Linked DNA regions of Homo sapiens. The protein of the gene in region 5 purifies or fractionates together with the protein of the main gene of each other region. This does not show direct contact. Each region holds a gene or a part of one and is shown on either strand. Other genes may lie near its edges. The genes, in order: RALY, STAU2, MTHFD1, ZNF318, NBEAL2, YTHDF2 and ELAVL2.

Evidence for each region.
Region 1: the proteins of NBEAL2 (region 5) and RALY purify together in Homo sapiens (tandem affinity purification; one large-scale study listed by IntAct). This does not show direct contact.
Region 2: the proteins of NBEAL2 (region 5) and STAU2 purify together in Homo sapiens (tandem affinity purification; one large-scale study listed by IntAct). This does not show direct contact.
Region 3: the proteins of NBEAL2 (region 5) and MTHFD1 purify together in Homo sapiens (tandem affinity purification; one large-scale study listed by IntAct). This does not show direct contact.
Region 4: the proteins of NBEAL2 (region 5) and ZNF318 purify together in Homo sapiens (tandem affinity purification; one large-scale study listed by IntAct). This does not show direct contact.
Region 6: the proteins of NBEAL2 (region 5) and YTHDF2 purify together in Homo sapiens (tandem affinity purification; one large-scale study listed by IntAct). This does not show direct contact.
Region 7: the proteins of NBEAL2 (region 5) and ELAVL2 purify together in Homo sapiens (tandem affinity purification; one large-scale study listed by IntAct). This does not show direct contact.

The regions. Positions count from the first base shown.
Region 1 is NC_000020.11:34,083,148-34,085,384, reverse strand, and holds the end of RALY (RNA-binding protein Raly), read right to left. Parts: 3' UTR 501-2,237; downstream 1-500. UniProt on the Homo sapiens protein: RNA-binding protein that acts as a transcriptional cofactor for cholesterol biosynthetic genes in the liver. Binds the lipid-responsive non-coding RNA LeXis and is required for LeXis-mediated effect on cholesterogenesis.
Region 2 is NC_000008.11:73,551,341-73,554,840, reverse strand, and holds part of STAU2 (double-stranded RNA-binding protein Staufen homolog 2), read left to right. Parts: intron 1-2,521; coding exon 2,522-2,829; coding exon of another isoform or gene 2,830-2,835; exon of another isoform or gene 2,836-3,500. UniProt on the Homo sapiens protein: RNA-binding protein required for the microtubule-dependent transport of neuronal RNA from the cell body to the dendrite.
Region 3 is NC_000014.9:64,419,353-64,422,852, reverse strand, and holds part of MTHFD1 (C-1-tetrahydrofolate synthase, cytoplasmic), read right to left. Parts: intron 3,040-3,500; coding exon 2,928-3,039; intron 1-2,927. UniProt on the Homo sapiens protein: Trifunctional enzyme that catalyzes the interconversion of three forms of one-carbon-substituted tetrahydrofolate: (6R)-5,10-methylene-5,6,7,8-tetrahydrofolate, 5,10-methenyltetrahydrofolate and (6S)-10-formyltetrahydrofolate.
Region 4 is NC_000006.12:43,356,148-43,359,647, forward strand, and holds part of ZNF318 (zinc finger protein 318), read right to left. Parts: intron 1,619-3,500; coding exon 979-1,618; intron 1-978.
Region 5 is NC_000003.12:46,989,666-46,993,165, reverse strand, and holds part of NBEAL2 (neurobeachin-like protein 2), read right to left. Parts: intron 3,498-3,500; exon of another isoform or gene 2,274-3,497; coding exon of another isoform or gene 2,258-2,273; intron 1,948-2,257; coding exon 1,862-1,947; intron 1,761-1,861; coding exon 1,478-1,760; intron 1,327-1,477; coding exon 1,220-1,326; intron 692-1,219; coding exon 611-691; intron 1-610. UniProt on the Homo sapiens protein: Probably involved in thrombopoiesis. Plays a role in the development or secretion of alpha-granules, that contain several growth factors important for platelet biogenesis.
Region 6 is NC_000001.11:28,743,440-28,746,939, reverse strand, and holds part of YTHDF2 (YTH domain-containing family protein 2), read right to left. Parts: coding exon 2,954-3,500; intron 1-2,953. UniProt on the Homo sapiens protein: Specifically recognizes and binds N6-methyladenosine (m6A)-containing RNAs, and regulates their stability. M6A is a modification present at internal sites of mRNAs and some non-coding RNAs and plays a role in mRNA stability and processing.
Region 7 is NC_000009.12:23,763,741-23,767,240, reverse strand, and holds part of ELAVL2 (ELAV-like protein 2), read left to right. Parts: intron 1-2,141; coding exon of another isoform or gene 2,142-2,232; intron 2,233-3,500.

The DNA.
Region 1 (2,237 bases), on a different chromosome or scaffold from region 5:
GAAGATTATGGAGCCATGAGTGGAGTCTGAAGCCACGGATGAAGTCATCCAGGGAGCAAGTACATAGAAAAGAGGGTAGACAGATGCAGGCATATGGGTAAGAGTCAGCAAGAGACGGAGTCTTGCTCTGTCGCCCAGGCTGGAGTGCAGTGGCGCGATCTTGGCTCACTGCAAGCTCCACCTCCCAGCTTCACACCATTCTCCTGCCTCAGCCTCCCAAGTAGCTGGGACTACAAGCGCCCGCCACCACACCCGGCTAATTTTTTTGTATTTTTAGTAGAGACGGGGTTTCGCCGTGTTAGCCAGGATGGTCTCGGTCTCCTGACCTCGTGATCTGCCCGCCTTGGCCTCCCAAAGTGTTGGGATTACAGGCGTGAGCCACCGCGCCCAGCAACAAAACCTATACTCTTAACCTAGCCCCCTGAGAAGCACAGCAAGCTACTGAACCTCTGTGGGCCTGTGTCCTGGTTATCTACTGATACAACAAATCACTCCAAAAGTTAGCATCTTCAAACAACGTTTTATTATCTCTCATGGTGCTGGGCTTTGAATGGCATCAGTGAGGCAGTTCTTACTTTGTTCTCAGACGGTGGCTGGGCTGGAGTCATCTTGAAGCCTTCCTCTCTCATGTCTGACATTTGATACTGCTGTCAGCTGAACATGTACACGTGGCCTCTCTGTGTGGCCTGGGCTGCTTCACAGCATGGTGGTTGGGTCCCAAGAGCTAGAGTCCCAAGAGATAATAAGTGGAAGCTGCTAGTGCTTCAGTCTGGGACTGGGAGACTGGCAGAGCACCACCACCATCATATGCTATTGATCGGTCACAGAGTTTAGATAAAGGCGAGGATAGGATAGAGATGCCACCTTTACTTGGGGCCATGCTTTTAAACCTCATCTACAAAATCTATAGAATAGACATAACCACACAGTGGATGCCTGTTTTTGTTAGCCAAGCCTTGCTCTCCTTTTGGGGATTCTCCCCTCTGTCCCTCTATTCTCACAGGCCCTATGGCCATGCTCTACCACTTCTTGGAACCTGCCCGAAAACCAGATTTTTTCCCCTTGAGTTGGGGTCTCGCTTTGTCACCCAGGCTGGAGTGCAGCGGCAGGATCATGGCTCACCGCAGCATTAACCTCCTAGGTGCAAATGATCTCCCACTGTAGTCCCCCAAGTAGCGGGGACTACAGGCACGTGTCACCATGCCTGGCTAACCGGATTCTCGATGGCAGCTTTTGAACCCAAGTCCCCATGTCTGAAGATCCCTGGACTTTACAATTTGTGAGCCAATAAACTTCCTCCCACTAAGCAGGACTGAATTCAGTTTCTGTAACTTGTAACCAGAAGTCCTTACTACACCTACTGAGGGTGGTTGTGGAGATTAAGTAAATGTAAAATGTGCTTTTTAACAGCAGGTGTTCAGGAAATGGTTTACTGTTATGGAGGAAGTTTATTATGAAGAATCTGGCTACTGGTGGAGGGATTTTGATTTGCCTAAAACCTCAATCAATCAATGATCTGGTTGGGATGAAAACCAAGGATGCCTGGCTCAGAATCTTTTGCTCTGCTTTGCCTTCTCTATTTCTGTGGTCTTGTCAGACAGGCCTACTGCATATAACATCCTATGGGGCAGGTTATGACCTTACGGGTCAACCTGGCCAGGGATGGCAAATACCTGACGCTCACGTGCCCACACTTGAATTCCATGCTCATAAGAGAAACTGCCAAACTATCATGTCAGTATTTCCAAACAGTCTGAAAATTGCTGCAGATCCTCAAAAGGCACTCCAGGCAGCTGCTACTAAAAGTTCTGAGTTGGCAAGTGAAATGAGTCCTGAGGTAGATTTTTTAAATATGGCCATATTTTGAAGCTCCTCCTGTTAAGAAGAATTTGGGCTTAGCCATGTGACTTACTTTGGCCAAAAGATACGTCATAGCAATATCCTCAAGAGCACTCGCATACTGGGCTTGTCTTCTCTTGCGGTTTTTGGAACTCAGCCATGATGTCTAGAATCCTGGGTCAGCCTGCTAGATGCTGGAACGTGTGGCCCAGTTGCCCAGCCAACCACCTGACAGGCGGGCGAGGCCATCTGAGACCAGCCAGTCCCCAGCTGATCTGCCAGCTCACTTCAGCCACACGAGGGCCCAGATGAGATAAGAACCACCACACTGAACACAGCCCAAACTGCCAAGCCACTCACTCAGGAGCTAATAAATGTTTATTAAGGCTACTAAATTT
Region 2 (3,500 bases), on a different chromosome or scaffold from region 5:
GTAGGAGCCAGATTATTAAGGGCTTCCTAGGTTATCCTAAGGAGTTTGGGTTCTATAGTGTAACTGATAAACTGGTGAAAGACCTTTAAGTAAGAGAATGTTCTAGCCTTGGCAAGATGGTAGAATAGGAAGCCCTGGAACACAGCAATTCAACAATAATTTATAGGCAATTTTTCTTTGTGAGAAATCCAGAAACCAGTTAAGAGGCTCCTGTATGCCGGGTGAGCATGAAACCAGCCAGATCTTAATTGGCAGGGAAATTTAAGATACCCTCATGCCATAATCCCTCCTCACAGTGCAGGGCCATACAATCAGGACAACCACCCTCCACCCCCAGCTCCCAGCTTCTTTCTGCCTAGAAGGGGAAAGATGTATACCACGCATCCAATGCCTTAGCTTTTCTGGGGCTACCCAGAGGACTGGCTTCTGTCTGGCCAGTCTCAGAGTGCTGACAGGACATGGCATATTTTAGCAACCCCGGGGCCAATGAAGAAAGAGGTGGCTGGTGGTGGTGGTCACTGTAACCATCCCCTGCTCAGCCCAGCACAAAGCTAACTGTTGAAAAGCTTCAGCTTTCAGCTTTTTCCTGGAGAGGCAAAGAGGAGCACCATGTATCCAATGACCCAACTTATCTGGGAGTTGCCTGAAGAATTGGCTTCAGTCTTGCTTGTCTCAGAGCTCTGATGGGACTGAGACAAGCAAGGGACTGATGCCTGGGGACTGCCAAGAACAAAGAAAGTGGATTAGACTAGCATAAAAGTTTGAGAGGCCTCCAGAATCTCTGTCCAGGCTGATTGGTTAGGATCTTCTCCAGTATGAGGCCAGTTTGTGCAGACACAAACACAGAGAATCAAGGAAAAATGAAGAAACAGGAAAACATTTCCTAAATAAAGGAATGAGATAAAGCTCCAGAAACTGACCCTAATGAAATGGAGATATGTGATTTACCTGACAGAGAATTCAAAGTAATCCTTACAAACATTCCCACTGAGGTCTGGTGAACAATGCATGAAAAAAAGTGAGAATTTCAACAAAAAGAAAACTTTAAAAAGTAGCAAGCAGAAAGCATGGAGCTAAAAAATACCATAAACTGAAAAAGTTACCAGAGGGATTCAATAGCAGACAATGTCAAGCAGAAGAAAAGGTCATCAATCTCAAAGACAGGTCATTGGAAATGACTGAGTCAGAGGAGAGTTGGGCTAGCCTCCAGCATTTCCCAAAGTGTTAGCTGTTTTATTCATGCTATGTTAAAGGCTTGGACAAAAAGTAAACTCAGGAATCCTGAGTTAAACCAAGTCGAATAGATTTTTGTTCTTTGAGTTTTCTGATTCTTCACTATGCTAATGTGTATTTTTAATTTCACAAAAGGCATTTGTATTATGTAATTTGCATTATTTTCAGTTTTTATTTATGGAACCATTTTATTTGGGGACCATGTTATAGAACACATTTTGGGAAATGGACACTGAGAATACTAGCAGCAGAGAAACATTGAAAGCTTGAATCAGAAGGTTAGCATCAGGAGAGGAAGGGGCAAGAACAGGAAATTAAGTTGTGTCTCTCAGAGCACATTCTTTATGAGTGGTGACTTACCAATAATTTTAAAAGATAATATCATTTGAGAGTTATTGATACCTGATCAAAAGATAAGAATAAGCAGTTTGAAATGTGGTTTGAAACTTCTCTGAGACAAATGATAGTCAAAGGAAAGTGCTTCTCTAATATGGTTTAAGCTCCATCAACTAATGACATAGCCCCCACTCCTCTTGATTTCAGAACCTGTCCATGGCCTGGCTTGAATTAATGCACTAGATAATCCCTACAATGGTCATATTCTTGAGATGTTTGAGCAACACGATAACTACTTGCTTATGAGTAAATCAGAGATGGTTGCCAGGAGTCTAGGTTGGGTCATGAGCAGCCACATGGTAGTATGAGCAAAGCAAGTTAGAGACAGTGCTAGTTTTGAGATGATACCCATTTGCTTTTTTATGTGTTCGTGAGTTAGAGTTGTCTGTGGGACATCCTTGTGGAGGTGAGAGGATCACTAGGCTGTTGAATACATGCGTTTGTACCTCCAAAGAAATTTGGACTGATTCAGCCTTTATTTTACCTGATGTGCCTCAATTGCTGTATGTGTTGGGGTTTCATGCCTCTTTTATGAGATATAAAATATTAAATTGCAGGGTGAAGACACTGCACATTCCTGATTTTCTGCCCCATTATACTTCCACACATTCAGTTTCCCTTGTCCCTTTATAGCTTCACTACTACACATAAGTCCCATTGAAACCACTTTTTTTGGATGTTTTTAAACCTCTAATTTTAGGAAAATTGAAATAGACATTATTCACCTTTCAATAGAAGCTGCAACTGCCTCTACAGTATGACAAAGATACTTGTTTGGCAGTGTTTCTCATTTCTTTGTTACTACACCAAGTAAAGCCATTGAGTTAATAATGCTATGTTTCTATTTCGGTTATTTTAAGTGTAATAACAGTGTTCTTCATTTTATTTATAGCTCCAAAAGGAATTCTTCATTTGTCTCCTGATGTTTATCAAGAGATGGAAGCCAGCCGCCACAAAGTAATCTCTGGCACTACTCTAGGCTATTTGTCACCCAAAGATATGAACCAACCTTCAAGCTCTTTCTTCAGTATATCTCCCACATCGAATAGTTCAGCTACAATTGCCAGGGAACTCCTTATGAATGGAACATCTTCTACAGCTGAAGCCATAGGTTTAAAAGGAAGTTCTCCTACTCCCCCTTGTTCTCCAGTACAACCTTCAAAACAACTGGAATATTTAGCAAGGATTCAAGGCTTTCAGGTATGAATTAAAAGCAAAAACAAAAAACAAAACAATTCATTAGCCTCAGATTCTTCATCTGTATACATCACAAGGCTCATTCTTGCCTGCTAGTATGGCCTACATGCCACTTACGTTTTAAGTTATTTAGGAACACAAAGGACAGACAAAAAAGCCATATGCACATGCCTCATTTTCTCTTATTTTTGATCTATCTAGTAATTCTTTTGCTGCCTGTCTCTTCTCCATTTTCCTTCTTCTTTTTTAAGCATTTTTCATATTCTTCACTGTCTTCTATTTGGTCTTGATTAGGTGCATCTATCTCTTCGCTCTGTCTTCCACAAACAAAAATTCTGCCTTCAGACATTTGGTGTTAGTATTTCACACTCAGTTCTCCCTTTTTTTACATAAGGATTGAGTTTCTTTTTATGATGATTTTACCTTTATAGCAATTTTGAATTTTGCATTCTATTGCTAGTATTGATTCAGGTACACCATTAAGATACAACATTCTAGAAGTCTATTACCTTAGGAGTTAATTAAACATGATATTTGAAGAATAATGAAATGCTTTATAGTTGTTTGAGGCATAACAATGTGTATTTGTTTTACTGGATCATGTTTTGAACTGACTAGGGAGGGTAGCACCTGCCTCAGATAGTACCAACAATTCTGTTTCACTGGGTAGTCTA
Region 3 (3,500 bases), on a different chromosome or scaffold from region 5:
ATGTGGTCAGTGGAAAAAGTGACCACTACTCAGCCTAAGCATATGACCTCAGTAATGAGCAAACCTTTTGGTTATCTACCCCCAGCCCTAGAATTTCTCTTTCTTTGGGAAATCACATGTACAAAAATCAACTAAAGATCCAGCTGAGCCCTGACTCTTCTACATTTAATTTGGGGACCCTAATAATAGAGGCCAGTCCAGAAGCAGCTACACTGGATAGGTTGAGACTGGATTGCATTAGGGTGGGGAATCTGTTCCCACTTTTTAACCCTTCCAAATAAAACACTATTGATCTGGCCCTTCTCAATTTATCTTTAGTAAGCCAAGCAGGAAGAGCACTTTTATGTGTTTCTCTGGCCAATACTTTCTGCCCTGCACTTGAATCTTTAAAAATATTACTTCTTTGTAAAAGGTATACACACCTTGATTCATTCTTAATTTGGCAAGTGACTTACAATGTTATCCCTGAGTGGACCATGCAAACTATTTAAATAATCAAAATATGAACCAAGAAGTAGCTCGGTGGTAGAAAAGTTTGCTTCTAAAGTGAACATTTGCAAATATCAGTCTTTAGGTCCTGCAGCCCATTTGCTGGTCTGTAACTGAGTGATTCTGCCATCCTTTGGGGAACACAATAACATCCAGCTGTATCAGCATTAATTTGCCTATATGCCCAAGATCAGTAAAAACACTGTTGACCAGAAGGGAAGATACTGCTTTGATTTTATTCATATTTTATTGTCTACATAAGGAATCAATGTGAAAAGGATGGCAAGTTTCATGTTTAAGTCAACATTTCCTACCTATCTGCAACACTCAAGATCCCCACTCAGGTTTTTCTTCTCCATTTCTCACATGTAATCCAAAAAAAAAATGCCAAAAGCAGAAATATGATACAGAAGATGCGAGGTTTTAAAAAGACTGAGCTTGCTGGGTGCGGTGGCTCACGCCTGTAATCCCAGCACTTTGGGAGGCAAAGGTGGGCGGATCACGAGGTCAGGAGATCGAGACCATCCTGGCTAACATGGTGAAACCCCGTCTCTACTAAAAATACAAAAAAAATTAGCCGGGCGTGGTGGCGGGCGCCTGTAGTCCCAGCTACTCGGGAGGCGGAGGCGGGAGAATGGCATGAACCCGCAAGGCGGAGCTTGCAGTGAGCCGAGATCGCGCCACAGCACTCCAGCCTGGGCAACAGAGCGAGACTCCGTCTCAAGAAAAAAAAAAAAAATTAAAAAAATAAATAAATAAAAAGACTGAGCTTGAATGTCATATCGCAAGTATTCAAAGTGAGGAGTTGTAGGAGAGCAATTTCTTTATCGCCTGTTAGATAATTACACTACAAGAAAATGAGTGATCAATTATGAGCTACTGTCTTAAAAGCACGGTAGGGAGAGTGGGAGGGAGGTTAAAAACGGTGAAGGCTTGACAGTGACTAATGTTCCTGGCAGCTCAGCGTCTACATCTGAAACTTGAGATGGGAAGGGAGAAAAAAGACTTCCAGCTATAACTCCCTTCGACAATTCAATAGATATGAGTGCCAGTGGTCAGATGGCAGGAAGCTGGATGTGGCGCCACAGTGACCACTGCCCTTGAGGAGCTATCTAGGCAGGAGAGCACAGGACGCCGTACATGAGACACATGCAACAAAAGATACAATACACATGTTCTATGGGAGAGGAGGGAGGGAGAGAAGGAAAGATCATCCCTTGATAAGGGGAAATCAAACAAGGTTTGGAAGGAATAACAGACATGACAGAGAGGAGATGGGGAGGAAGCAGCTGAAGGTGAAGGTGAAGTTGAACCTTATTCAGTTGTGTAGCCCAAGGCCTGGCATTGTGCTGGATACACAGTAGTTGCTCCGTTAAAGATTGTTCCTTTCTTGGATCTATGAGGACGTACGCAAGTTTTGCCCTATTGTTCTGTGAAGTTTTCTGTTTGAAAGAGTAGCCCACTCCACTAAGAATGCAGGTGAGGGAACTACAAAGGGCAAACGAGGCATGCGCAGGGAAGGGAAAGTGGTCCACTTTACAAGTTGAAGACAGGTATTCACCATGCGCAAGTGAGATCACAGGCTGCAGAGGTCACTGAAATTAGTGTGAGGCTAAGGAGTCTGGCAAGTAAGAAGGAAGAGGCTCAGAGTTCCATGCCAGAAGGTGAACGTGGCAAGGCGAGAGCACGGGGATAGATCTGAGTGGGAAGCAGCTGGAGGGAGGGACACCTGCAAGGAAGTTATCACAGCCCATCAGCTGAGAAGGTAACACTCAGTGGTGACACTCAGAACAGAGGAGAGAGAAAACAATTCCTAATATTTAGAGACTGGTCCAATATAGGGAATGCTTGGGAGGGAAACTAAAAGGCTTCAGACTTGCGGGAAGGAAGAATGGTGATACTAACCAAAAGACGGGAGTAAGGGGTAACTTGGGGATGAGGATGCCGAGTACAGTTTTGGACATGATTAAAAGGCTAGATTTATCCTCTCAGCCTAGAAAAAAACCCAGGTCAAATATCTTCTTTGTAAAGCCCTCCTCTTGGCAGAATGAGTCCCTCTTCTGGACTCTCATAGCACTTTGCAATAATTATACTGTATTTTAAATCCATCCATCAACTTTGCTAAAATAAAGGGTGATCTCTACATGAAGATAAAGTGATATATCCCTCCTGCCCTCCCTCTCACTTTCTCCCTGGACAAAGTCATCTTGGAAGCTGTACAGCACATGATGAAAATCAAAGGCTCTGGCACCAGGCAGACCTGCCTGCAAGTGGCAACTCTTCTATCTACTAACTCTGTGCACCCTTGGGCTAGTCAGTCTCCTAAACCTTAGTACTACAAGCATAAAATGAGACAAGCTTCTCTCTCAGGCTTCTTTTGATGACCTAGATACCATCCTCAATACCAGCAGCCACCTTACTCCTCCAACAACACTCACCTGGGACATAATTGATTCCACAGTCGATGACTATTGCCCCAGGTTTGATCCACTCCCCTTTAACCATTTCAGGCTGACCAGTTGCAACCACCAGGATGTCACCTTTATTTACCTAGGGGTAGGGGATTTGGACATCAGAAATGAAATAATGAAATACACACCAAAAAAAAACCCAGAAATGAAAAGGATATCCCTGAGCTTTGTATTAAATTCTTAAGTGTCATAAGCTATTTCATAAGATATTGGGTTAAGGCCTCAAATGTAAGCCACACACTGTTTCTGACAGCCCTTCACATGCCGTGCTCATTTCTACACATGCCAAAGAGCTCCCTTTCACCAGCCATTTTACCCAATAGGGAAATCAGTGTCAACCTGCAAGGCAGAGGGGCAAACAGGCTTGGGGCCCTGCGTGTTATGTCCAGACACTGCTCCTTCTCCTACAGAATGTAGAGCACTACTTTGGGAGGATTAAAAGAGAAAGTACTAGGCCTCTCTCCTGCTCTCTCCCCACATTTAAGAGACTGCACTGTCAACAGGCACGTGTGTGTGTGTGCGCATTCTTGGGCTCAGGAA
Region 4 (3,500 bases), on a different chromosome or scaffold from region 5:
GCAAAGACAAACACAACTGATTTAGTCTTATGCAGAATCTCAGAACATTAGTAATTGAGATAAATACTTAAATACTTTGGTCTTCCTGAATTAACAGGTGAGATACAAGTATGGATAAAAGGGAGGAAAAGTATCCTTAGCCAGATTCAAAATGTGAATCCCCTTATCTCCAGATGTTTCTACTGTTGAGGAGAAACAGGAAGTGAGGCAAACTGGATGGAATCCTCACCTTTATCTATTTGTTAAAAGGAATTTGAATTCAAAAGAATTTTAGAGATCCCCTAGCTTGTTTTCTTTTCTATGGATCCCCAAAAGAAAAGGAAAAAAAAAGCTGCTTTGGCTGAAGTGGGGAGAGGAAACTCTGGAACGCTAACTCATCAGCATTCCTTTGCTTGGGAACCTCTTCAGAAGCCTTTATCTCCTAAGAGGACAGCTAAAAACTAGTGGTCTTTCCACTAGTGGTCTGACCATCCTTTCACAGGTCAGGGAAAAATATCAAGGCTCAGAATGGTGAGGTGACTTGTCTAAAAATCACAGTAAGTTGGTGGCAGAAGTGGGTCCAAAATCAGAATCATCTGATTTCTAGTCCAGTGTCCTACAACTCATACATCTTGTCTTCTCTCTAAAGAGAGATGAGAAAATTGAGATCACCTCCTCCCCTTGCCCTTCAAGGTTCATTTCCAACAAACCCATACTCAAAGATTGCCAAAGGATAATCCAATTTAAGTAAAAAAACTTACAGTACTCTCCAAAATATCTATTTATTAATATAAAGCCTAATATACAGCAATAGAACCCTCTACTGATGCATTAAAAGGCCTACAGTTTCGTTTGGAGAGTCCTAGAAGGTGTAGCTCACAATGTCGGTCCAGCACATATTACAAAGATACCATTAGGAACATAGCCCACAGGAAAGTAAGCAGGCTTTAAGATATTAGGGAGACTAGCAAGAGGCCCTACAAGAAATGCAGCAGAGACCTGCATGGAGGGCTCCATTATGTCCACCTCAATCCGCTTCTTCAAAATGGATTTCTTGGGCATCACAGATACTTCCTCAGGCCGATGCAAAGAATATCCTGGCTCCGATGCTGTTAGGACACCTGACAATCCAGGGATGGAACAGCCAGTACCACCACCATCAACTCCAACCAGCTCCTGACTCAAGCTCCTACTTCGCTCCTCCTCTTCCTCTCGCTTTCGTCTGGCAAGATCCAGTTCTCGAAACTCAGGGTCGAGAAACCTAGGACTTGGGCTTCTTCTACGCTGTCGATAGTTGCGAGTTCCTGATGTAAAACTTGGGTGATCCCCTCCCATGCTGTTTATCTTCACTGTGTCATCATAACGGGGTCTTTTGGCCTCCCGGCTCCTTTCTTCAGATCGTATGGAGTAGCCTTTGAGTTTTTCTCGATTCCGTTCTGTTCCCCGCAACAGCTCATCATGACAACTGATATGGGGACTATAATCAGATCGATGCAGGAAAGTTTCTTTTGTTCGGTAGTCCTCATCAAGTTGTCCCAAGAAGGGACTGAGAGGCCCTTCCTCCTGGGAAATATATCGCTCAAGACCCCGAGAGCACTGGGAGCTTCGAGTGAAGACAGAATCATCAGTCAGGTCATCCCTGAGGAAAAAGAGAAGCATCATTGAACAAATGGACTTGGAAAGAATAAGAGCAGACAAGGCTAAGAGACTGGTGTTTGTCAAGGGGGCTATAAAATGCTTAGGGCAAAAGACTATAATCATGAAGTCCAAGAACATTTCCTCTCCCTTTCCCCAGGGGAACAAGCAGCTTTAGCCTCTAACCAAGAGGTAATATTACCAACATATCTAGATAGATCTCTTGGGTAATTTCTCCGACTAGACTTAGGGCATGCAGAATATCATGGAAGTTACACAACTCCACACAAGCTAAATTCTAGCTCTTTGCTACTGAAAGTGTAGTGCGGACGAAACAGCATTAGCATTACCTGGGAACTTTTTAGAAATATAGCTTCTCAAAGCTCCACCCCAAGCAGATCTGAACTAGAATCTGCATTTTAACAAGATCTCCAGGTGATTTGTCTGTACTTTAAAGTTTGAGAAACACCAGTCCAGATCAATGGGATTTTTTTGTTTTGTTTTGAGATGGAGTCTCGCTCTGTCACCCAGGCTGGAATGCAGTGATGCAATCTCGGCTCACTGCAAGCTCCGCCTCTCAGGTTCACGCCATTCTCCTGCCTCAGTCTCCCGAGTAACTGGGCCTATAGGCACCAGCCATCACACCCGGCTAATTTTTTTTTTTTTTTTTTTCTGATTTTTTAGTAGAGACAGGGTTTCACCATGTTAGCCAGGATGGTCTTGATCTCCTGACCTAGTGATCAGCCCGCCTTGGCCTCCCAAAGTGCTGGGATTACAGGCATGAGCCACCGCGCCCAGCCTGTTTTGTTTAAGACAGAGTCTTGCTCTGTCACCCAGGCTGGAGTGCAGTGGCATGATCTCGGCTGACTGCAACCTCTACCTCCCTGGTTCAAGTGATTCTTGTGCCTCAACCTCCTTAAGTAGCTGGGATTACAGGTGTGCACCACCATGCTGGCTGACTTTTTGCATTTTTTTAGTAGAGATGGGGTTTCACATGTTGGCCAGGCTGGTCTCGAACTCCTGATCTCAGGTGATCTGCCCGCCTCAGCCTCCCAAACTGCTGGGATTACAGGCGTGAGCCTCCACACGTGGCTCAGATAAATGGTTTTAAAGCTGTGTTCCAGAGGTTGTAAAGAGTGCTCAGGAGCTACCAAAAGAAAGGAGGTACTAGAAAAGCAGAACCAGCAGGGCTCTTGACCTTCTATCCCAGTTAAATCACACTAATTCCAACTTTAAGTCTGTATATTAAGGTTCTAATAATTCAATTGGGAAAAAAAAGTATCACTATATGGTAACTTTTAAAAAAACTACTGATTTATCTAATTAGCATGATTTTCTCATAAGATTTAGAAGGTTCTCCAATGCTTTGCCTTGATGGTTCACATATTAAAACCCATAAAGCTCTCTCACAGCCTGTTTTGTCACCCTCTTTGCCTTCTCTGGATATCTACAAGCACTCTGCTAATCTTGGGCTTAGAAAAGAGAAAGTGATGGTTTGGTTCACCATATATTTTTATTTCATTAAATACAAAGGTCTCAGACCTTTGTGGCATGAGGTAAAAATCCAGGATGGGACAGCTATTCTTTTAGCTGAGAATTCTATACCACACCCAATAATGCTAACCTTCTCAGGGGCTATGGCTATGACACAAAACTAAAGTTTCTGATTTAAATCACAGATAGAAATAAAGATCCTCTAGCACTTTATGTATGAAAACTTCTAAGTACTCTGAATAAAAAATAAAAGTTCTTACATGTCACTCACATTCCAGAGTGAATTATCATCTAGAGGATGGTAACTATTAGTGTCTTCTACAGTTTCTAGTAGCTACTTTTGTTGTGAGTTTCTAGAAATGACTTTTCCTTAGTTTTTTTAGTAGTTGCTT
Region 5 (3,500 bases):
GTAAGCTCTAAGAAAATGACCACATGCGGTGAACACATAGGGTTACCTCATGAAGACAGAGCCAGGGTAGGGGCTATGGAGGTTGGGGCCCACAGGTTGAGCCCCCAGAAAGGGTGCCCGCTGTGAAGCTGCCAGCTGACACCCTGCAGCCTCCTACAGCCCACATGCAAGGTGAATCAGGGATCACATCATCAGGGGCTGGGGGACACCCAGTGACCCGCTGAGGGTGGGTGCAAGAATCTACAGAAAGAAATGGCACCATGAGGGAGACCCCTTTCTCTGTGACTATAGCCAAATCCTTGAGTGTCTGGGCTTCTGTCTCCCCTTCTGAGAAATGAGGTAGGTGGCTGAGTTTCGAAGGTTCCATCCAGCTTGGCACAGCCAGACCCCCAACACCCAATCAAACACCAGGCAGGGGATAGACCACCTTCTGTCCTGTTCCCTAGGATGGGGACTTGGAAGGCAGGCGAGACAGCATGGAGGACCCACACCCATTTCTAGACCACACCAGGCCTTACACACATCTGCTCATTTCCCCAGCTATAGTGCAGGAAAAGCTCAAAGAGGGAGTCCCAGGGGGTGTCTGAGCTGGTCAGCCCCAGGATGGTACCTTTTGGACATCGGGCTCAGTCAGTAACCGGGTAGCCAGGTCACTGTCCCCCTCGGGGGGCGCCCGGGACTGCAGGTACAGCTGTGGGGAAGTGGGGAGGCACAGGGTGGAGGAGGCAAAGAAGAGAGGAGGAAGATGGGAGAGGGTGGGGTTAGAGCAGGACCAGGGGCAGCTGCCAGGTGCCCTGCCCGGCACTAGGGAAGAGTAGGGTGCTGAGCCCCCTGTGCCCTGCTCAGATGGGCAGTCGGGGGGATGAGCGGGTGGGAGCAGGCACTGCATCTGAAAGCAGTGGTGCCCTCCTCTAGCCCCTGTACTTGGGGCCACGGAAAGGGAAACAAGGCACCAGAGCAGCTCCCTTCCTTCCATAACAAGCCCCGCTTCCATGGGGCACAAAGATGTCCTAAGCCTCAAGCCCAGTCCTATAGAGGCCCCAAGGGATGGGCCCTTGTCCATGCCCCACACCCTCCCACTGAACTGCAAGCCATCCCACCAGCTGCAAAACACTGACTCTGTCCAGCCCATGTTTGCTCAGCAGCAGCCTGGCACCTATGCGTGGCTCCCCTAGCCTCTGGCTTCCAGACCCTCACCCCCAGGCTGGGCCCTACCCACCTTGCTGTTCTGAATGAGCCGAGTGAGGTGTTCAAAGCAATTGTTGCTGAGGAAGGTGGCTTGCAGCACTGGCCGGTCTTCACATGCCAGCATCATGGGGATGGCGTCTGTGGAAGGGTCAAGGGTCAGGCCCTGCCCAGACCCCTCTAGGCAGCCTTAAGCCTTCCTTCCTATGCTGCCCTATCCAGACCTTCCATCATCACTTAGGCTTTTCCCTCATGGTGCCCCTTCCCCAAGAGCCTGGGAGCCCATACCCACCGAGCATGCTGACCCGGAGGGTGACAAGGGCCTCTTCGGGGCCTGAGCTCAGACCAGCTGGCCAGTCAGCATTAAGGACATGGAAGTAGCTCTCAAGCAGGGCACGAAGCTCTGGGCCACGAGGAGGTGCGCGGCTGGCATGCAAGACATGGACTGCACCTACCAGTGCCTCTAGAGCCAGTGGCACTAGGCACGGGTCCGGGGCTGGCCCACGGCTCCAGCCCCGCACCACACTCAGCAGGCCCTTCACAGAGCCATCACTTACAGCCATCTGCCCGTTCTCCTGCAGGTGTGGACAGAGATGGGCAGTGGGCAAGGGGCTCACCCAGCAGAGAGATACTGAAAGAGCTGCTCTCTAGTCCACAGGCTCACCTCCCAGCCTACCTTTCCTCCAGCGAGGACGGCGCAGAAGAGGTGGATGAGACGTAACAGCAGTATGGGAGGCAAGTGGTCTGCATTCTGTAGGCTCTCTGGGTAGGGGGGTGTGGGCAGGGTAATGTCACCAAGGTTGCAGGGCTATGGACCCAGGGGGCTGCACAAGAGGTGAGTGCCCTGGGGTGGAGGGGAGAGGGAGCTGGGCCAAGTAAAAGATCCAGTGTGAGGGATAAGAGCTGGCTCTGCCCTGGGGGGCATCTAAGGAGTTATGGCTGTATAGTAGAGGGCCTGAAAGGGACAACCCTTCTTTGGGGGACTTAAGGGTGACAAAGACCAGCCCTGAGAGTCTAGCCAGCTTCCCAGATCCTTAAGCCCCAAAGTGAGGGCCCCAGCATGAGCACATACCCTTCCACTTCCCCATGATGACCAGGGCTTAGTTTCTCAGATGCAAATCTCTTGCTGCCTCTGCCCTGTGACGGTTGGTGCTTCCCATGCCGTGCTCTGGGGACTCTGCTGTATCTACTATACTGATGCCACCTCCCCCCACGCCCATGCCTTTGCCTGGGACTTCTAGGGGCTTTCACAACCTAATACGTAGGAGGCCCACCTGGCCCTGCGCCAGCAAAACTGGACAGGATGCCAGGCCAGGGACTGAAACTCAGAGGGCAGAAGGGACTAGCCCCGGGTCACATGCCTGGCAGAGGAGGAAGAGTAGGGCTGGGGCTTGATTCCGGCTGGATGGGTGGGAGGCCTCCTTGGGGATGGGGCTTTTGAGGGGAGACCTGAGAATGCAGTTGGAGGGGAGAAGGCACAGCATGGGCTAAGACCCTGAGGTGGGGTCAGTGGTAGCAGTCTGGGAATGAGAGGACAGAAGCCAGGCTGAGCAGCAGGGCAAGTGGAGAGAAAGGCTGTGGGAGGAGTAGGATTTCATCTTGAGGACGTCAGGTTGACATCAAGGGATATGATGGGAGGAGAAATGAAATCCAGTTTGTTTTAATAACAGCACCCAGGCTATGGGAAAATAAAGTCGAGGAGCTCCCTAGGGGTGCCTCCCCTCCTGGAGTTGCTGCCCCAACTCTAGATCCAGGCCCACAGCTCCATGGGGGCATCACTGAGACATTTAATATCCCAATAGGTCACCACCTTTTCACAGCCCTGCCCACCTCTGTCCAGGCCATATCCCACCCTGAGCCTATCTAAAGTCCTGGCCAGTCTCCCTCCAATGAGAGGAGAGAGGGGACCCAGGGGTGGAGGGTCACCAGGGAGAACAGGTTCACAGGACCACCTGTGAACAGGCAGCCACAGCTGTCCTGGGCACCAGATCCTCCAGCAGCCAGGGAACAGGAGGTGGAGATACCTCCTGTGTCTCCGGGATGGGTGGAGATGCGTGGAGGCTATGGGGACAAAGGGATTGGACCAGAGAGTTTTAAGATCACAGTAGGGTACAAGTGGCTAGAAGGATCCAGGAGATGGCGGGGAAAGAGGATGAGAAATCTGGGTAGGCAGGTTGACCCCACCCCTCCACCTGATGGGAGGCCCTCGCTCCAGCCCAAGATGTCTTCTCTTGTCTCTGTCCCTAAACTCTTGCTTGGTCTTTGGTTCTCCCAGTCCTGCATGCAGCCACCACCAAGTGGTTCCTGTGTATGGC
Region 6 (3,500 bases), on a different chromosome or scaffold from region 5:
CAGCTAATTTTGTATTTTTTAGTAGAGACAGGGTTTCTCCATGTTGATCAGGCTGGTCTCAAACTCCTGACCTCAGGTGATCCGCCCACCTCGGCCTCCCAAAGTGCTGGGATTACAGGCGTGAGCCAGAGCCTGGCCAAAAGCTAAATTAACAAAACCTAAATTTGCTACTTGTTTGTTTAGACAGAGTCTCTCTCTATCGCCCAGGCTGGAGTGCAGTGGCAGGATCTCAGCTCACTGCAACCCCTGCCTCCCGGGTCCAAGAAATTATCCTGCCTCAGCCTCCCAAGTAGTTGGGATCACAGGTACCCACAACCACACCCAGCTAATTTTTTTTTTTTTTTTTGTAGTATTTTTAGTAGAGACGGGATTTCACCATGCTGGCCTCAAACTGCTGGCTTCAAACTGCTGACCTCAAGTGATCGGCCCGCCTCTGCCTACCAATGTGCTGGGATTACAAGCATGAGCCACCTGCGCCCAGCCTGCTACTCCATTTCTAAACCCATATTTCTTCATCTGGCCCCAGCAATGCAAAATTGAAAAGAAAATCACCCTGTATTTCCCCACTGGCCCTAACACATACAAGTCTATCTTAACAACTATGCTGTGCATTAAATTCATCATTTCCTTCCTGCTTTTAATCACAAGATGTAGGACAGAATTTTATTATAAAGATTAATAAGATAGTACACATTTCAAGTGGACAAACCAAGCACCTAGATGCCCCTCAGACGTCTATAAATCTGCTATGCTACTAAAAGATGCCTAAAAGATCATGGCCTCCTTACTTGTCCCTCTAGAAACAGAAGCCTGATGACCATTTAGAGCCCTTCAGATGTCTAGCAAAAAGCACCAATAAACTATCTTTTTCTACAAAATACTGTAAATTTTATTTATTTTTGATACAGAGTCTCACTCTGTTGCCCCTGCTGGAGTGCAGTGATGCAATCATGGCTCACTACAACCTCTAACTCCTGGACTCAAGGGATCCTCCTTCCTCAGCCTCCAAAGTAGCTAGGACAACAGGTGTGTGCCACCATGCCCAGCTAATTTTTTCTTTTTTAGAGAGATGGGGTCTCACTACATTGCCCAGGCTGGTCTTAAACTCCTAGGCCCAGGCAATCCTCCTGCCTCGTCCTCCCAAAGTGTTGGGATTACAGGTGTGAGCCACCACGCCAGGCCAAAATATGTTAGTTTTTTTTTGGGGGGGGGGGGCGGGGGGAGATGGGAGTTTAGCTCTTGTTGCCCAGGCTAGAGCACGATCTCGGCTCACCGCAACCTCTGCCTTCGGGGTTCAAGTGATTCTCCTACCTCAGCCTCCCAAGTAGCTGAGATTACAGGCATGTGCCACCACACCCGGCTAATTTTGTACTTTTAATAGAAACGGGGTTTCTCCATGTTGGTCAAGCTGGTCCTGACCTCAGGTGATCTGCCCACCTCAGCCTCCCAAAGTGCTGGGATTATAGGCGTGAGCCATGACGCCAGGCTTAATATGGAAGACTTTAAGTTAAACTATTAAACTGTGGGGAAGAGAGGAGTTTAAAGGACTATCAAAAAGGAAGTTTATTAGCCAACTTTTCAATAATCTGGTTCTCCATTCCCAATGCTTTTAGTGTCACTGACAAGTGTAACTCCCATTTCTTATTAATCTGTACCCACTGAAAGATAAAATAGCAACCATCCCTACTTTAACAACTATGTACCTCCAAGAAGATTGTACCAACGAGCCCTTCCTCCACTGCTAAAAGGAGTAAATTCTCATAGAGCAGCCTAACAATGCCTCAGATCCTAGATCACGTATAAGATCCCTATGAATTCATAACAAATTTAAGGAAAACATTGCTTGTTAGACTTTATTTTATATTTGAGATTAATCAACTCAGGATTCTCTCAACCACTAATACACAGATCTTCAAAGAAAAATTTCTCCTTGCTCATAAACTTTTCACCTACTTCCTACATTTAACAATGTCTAGGCCAGCTGCAGTGGCTCACACCTGTAATCCCAGCACTTTGGGAGGCAGGGGCAGATCACTTGAGCTCAGGAGTTCAAGACCAGCCTGGGCAACATGGCAAAACCCAGCTCTACAAAAAACATGAAAAACTAGCCGGGCATGGTGGTGCATGACTGTGATCCCAGCTAGTCACGAAGCTGAGATGGGGGGATCACTTGAGCCCAGAAGGTGGAGGCTGGAGTGGGCGGACATCATGCCACTGCACTCCAGCCTGGGCAACAGAGAACCCTGTCCAAAAAAAAGTAAGTATAAATCCCAGATAATATATCATTATCTGCTCCAACCAGTTTTATCATCCTCTTATAATCCTAAAGTTTACATTCACTCAATACTCACAGAGCAAACGCTACCAACTCTTTCAAATTCAACTCTAGTTTGAATCCATTCCTCATCATTCTGCCCAAGATTCCCACTTGTTACAGAGGAAATCAGAAGTGACTCTTTTACACCGCCAATTGTCACAGGGAAGACAGAAGTGATTTCAAGAGTTGGTGATGACATATTGACTCTTGAAAATAACCACAAAACCCCAGCTAGGCCAAGTTAATCCAACAGAGAACATTTCGATTTTTCTCTGCCATATTATAGACTCAATCTTCTGCTTTAATTTCTATGGTTTTATCACTTCCATTACCCCTCTGCATCTCTTTGACTCATTCTTCACCTCTTTCTGCATCATGTACTGTTTCTGTCTGATTTCCTTGTACTGTTTTTGCTTTCCTTTCAAAGTCCGTATTTCTGTCCTCTACTAATGTTCTCACATTCCTTCACATTAGGGTTCAAGTATTAAAACCAATTATACTTCTATAAAGCCTTGAACTGTTAGGTGATACTGTATTCATTTACAGAGTTTTTATTAACGGTTCACTATATAATACCTCTTCTGTTCTCTCTGGTTCCTCCTTCCCTAAAAATCTTAATAAGAAGAAGTGGGTTACCTTTTTAACACTTTCTTCTTCCTCTTGGCGTTTCTCATAGTGTGAGAAGTCATCAAAAATGGAAGTGGTGTGCTTGTAGCTGGCTATAATTTTCAACACCTGCTTAGCCTTTTCCAGAGGCACTTCCTGAGTGTCCCTAGAGTTGGTCACTGGTTTATTCTCGTTGTTCTCTAGGCGAATGTGTCGCAGTTGGCTATTGGGAACGTCCTTCACAAAAATCCACCTGACATCAAAACGACCCTTCCATTTGTCCTGGGACCACACACCTGCACATGTGTTGTAGTCCACAGCAGATTTCATTTCTGCCACGCCACAGAAGTGTCCACTGCCGTTGACACTGAAAAGTAAGTAAACGGGGCCTTTCCCGTTCATGGAACGATAAGCAGCATCCAGTCTCTTGTTACCATGCTCTGTGCTGCACCAAATATTATACTTAATGGAACGGTGAATATCGTCCTCAGAGTAGCTCTTAATGATGAAAACCCGGCCATGTTTCAGATTCCAGTCAAAATCTTTGGGGTTATAGTTATTAATGGACCGAAGCTTC
Region 7 (3,500 bases), on a different chromosome or scaffold from region 5:
ATAAAGGATTATTTAAATAAAAAGTTTAGAAGTCTTTATGGCTTTTTGGAAGTACCTGTGTGTATAAAAGTAGAGACAATCTTCTATTTCCCAATAAAACCTACGCTTTCACCATAGTAACAGCCATTTTACCTTGGAGCCCAGTGAAAGTTTAGAATATTCTAGATTCATCTATGCTAAAGTGCCTTTTCGTAAATTATTACTTGGATAATAACAGGAGGAAAAGCAGTCTGAATTGGCACAAGTGATGTCTAAATTAAGAGGAGAATATATATTGAAACATTATTTTTTTAAGCCTTAAAATTAATGGCTCTGTTTCACTGGAATATGGCCTTTTTTTTCTTTCCGAAGAGTTTCAGAGCCAGTGGAATCTATAAATAGTACACAGCCCAGTTGTCTGTGGTAGATTGAGTAGAGCAGAATTGCCTGTCCTTAAGTGAAGGGGAAGTAGCTTTACATTTTTAGTAACTGAATTGTTGGCCAGCATAAAGGTAAGGGCCATGTGAGCAACTTATTTATAACTTCCCATAAAGGTATGTGTCTGCCTCAAGCGGAGAAGACTGTCTGGGGTGCTTGAAATGTAAAAGTGCAGTAGAATCATTTTCCATACACAGCCTTCCTATCTAGTTGGTGCAATAAAGTGATTGTTCACCTCCCTGGGGCTTTCAGAAAGAGGGGTGTCAATAGATTAGCTCATTAGTGTCCACCTCCTATGAAATAGAAGGGACTGAGGCAGTTAAATTAAAATCTGTTTTATGTAGTGAGCAATGTTTAGATTGAACTCCTGAAGGTATTCAGGACATACATTTATGCCTGCTTTACCCTGCTGGGTGTGGTCCTGCTCATGTAGTCTTAACTACAGTTGGGTTCTTATGAAAAATCTTTCATGGGTGTAAAGCACTTTTTCACAGGTTCAGTTAAACTATAAGTAGTTTTTTGAAAAATAACATAGGGTCAGACCAAAATCTCTTGTTACAGTGGGAGAACGGAAGAAGAGTAAAATATTTTCATGGCTTCCTGTAAAAAAGTATGTTAATCCTTTTTGATAGATGCCAGAAAGTGGAATCCATCGTTACTGGCGGCATTGCTAATATCAAGAGTAAATCACAGCCAGGATTGCCTCTCAGGATAAAATTTTTATAATTATCAATAAGTAAAAGACATTTTTGGACCTCTTCTGTTATTCACTGTCTATTTTTAGAAACTAAGTTTTCTGATTATATTGACCATTTGAAGCATCTGCATATATGGCAAAAAAAGTAAACTTTGGCTTTTGTGCCAATATCATGGCTCTGTTTGGTATTTGGGCAAGTTTCAATAAGTGGTAAATGGCCCATTAACTATATTGGAGGCCTCATAGCAGCACTAATTTCAAATCGTGCTGGGTTTACAATTTACATATTAAAAAATGTTCACTTGATTTCGTTCAGGGACAAAGCTGACATCCTATGCGAGCATTACTCCAAACAATCCTATTTATCGGTCCAATTATTTCAATTGAAAGATGCTGGTTTACTGCCTCTTAGTATATGTGAGCAATTCTCATTGAAACTGTTAGAAACCGTTTGACTGTAGTGGCAAAATAACCTCACAGGGTTTCGATTCACTTTTAATTTTAAGTCCCAGGATTAAGGATCATTTATAGTATAATGTAACAGTGTGGGCAAATATAGCTTCTCTTAATGTCTTTCTGATATTTTGGGGAAAGAGTGCTTTTATGCAAACCAATCACTTAGGAATTGCATGATGACTTTTTCCCACTATAAAATTTCATTCACATTTCCTCCCTTCTCCCACATCCTTAAGAGATAAGACAGCCTGCAGTATTTTGCTTTATTTTACTTTATTTTTTAAATTTTTGAGGTGTGGTTTACATTAGTTCTTCAGAATAGATGCCAAGATAACTAGTTAATACTGTTTTAAAATCAGGCTCTTAATTAAAAATGCTTATATTTGTGCAAGAAAACTACATGTTGAAATGAATTTGGAAAGATTAGATTGGAATTGCCTCAATTTCAATTAAGCCACACTGCATGGACGTGCTGGGAATATCAATACAATCACTGTAAATTTTGTACAAACTGATTTGTTGCATTATCTTGCTCATCTAACATACGGTACTTTTTGTGTCCATATTGCAGACGGCAACTCCAAACTAACATGGCAGTCAGACTGTGTGATGTGGCTTCTCTGCTTAGAAGTGGTTCGTGGGCAGCAGAGCCTTGGACCGGGGTCTGTGGGATTTTTCTTAAATTCTGTAGGCTACTTTTTTTTAGCATGTTGGAGGAGTGCTGAGGCCATACCAAACACTTGAATCTTTCATTTGGCATACTAATTATTCTTACATTTAACCTATTGTGGTATGGCCATCATTAGGACTTAAAGCACATTGCAATTTTAACTGTAGTGGTGTATGTAGCATCAGAACCATGCTCTCGTATGTAATTTTTTTACAATCTAAATTAGGATTTAGCGCAGACTCAAAAGAGTGACAAGCTTTTTTAAAAAAACAAAAAAAGTTTTGGTATGGTCTGAATACTAAGTTACCGTAATTCTATACATTCTGTTTACTATGTATTTTTTTGGTTACTAAATTTTGAAGTTATTTACAATTCTTTATGCTCCAAAAAAAAAGTTGAAATTGTAAATCTGGCTGAAAATTATTTGCCCAGTAACTGTTGAAAGAGTTTGCATTCTGTGAACAGTTGTGTTGAGCCTATCAATGGAATATGCATTATTTGTAAAATATAGCACATTAGTATCATTTTATTCTGAGCAGATGGTCCTATAGCAGAGAGATGCTGTAATTTTCAGCGCACACAGCCTACTGCAGCTGTTCACTTGAATGTTGGCTTAGGAGCTCATTCTTGCCACCTGAACATGGAAATAAATGTGCAATTAAGTGAGGAGTGTTTGTTGTCCTTTCTAAATCTTGCTGATTTCAGTCAATGAACACTTTGTATTTCAAATGCTATCCCAATGAGCTTTAGTCCGAATCTCCCATTCGGGTCTCTTGTAGTTTCTACACCCATCCAAACTTTTCAGTAGTGATTTAAGTGTCTTTGGCCACTTTAATCTTGTAGCTCATTGTTTCCATAACTGCTGGGCAAGGGTTAACCCCAGAAGAATTTTTGCTGTGAAAAGAGTGACCCACAGCTAATATTCTACAAACCAGAACAGTTATGTTTAATTAGGAAATCTGAAACTTCCCTTTTCAAATTCAAATAGATTTGCTAATTATAATAAAACCCATATCTTGAATTATTTAAGATTTTTAAATACAGATTTCCAAAGGTTTATTTTCCTTCATCCCTTTAAGTATTCCCTGAGAAAACTTAGCTTACGTAGAGAAACAGCTTGCAGCTTGTAGAATAAATTCCCACTTCTTTGACAAGGAAATGAAGTCACAGAGGGGTTACAGGTTGTTGGATATTTCAAAAGCTATTCTGGATTTTGCCTCATGTTTTTTTATCATGACAGCACTGATTCTTGTTCAGTCT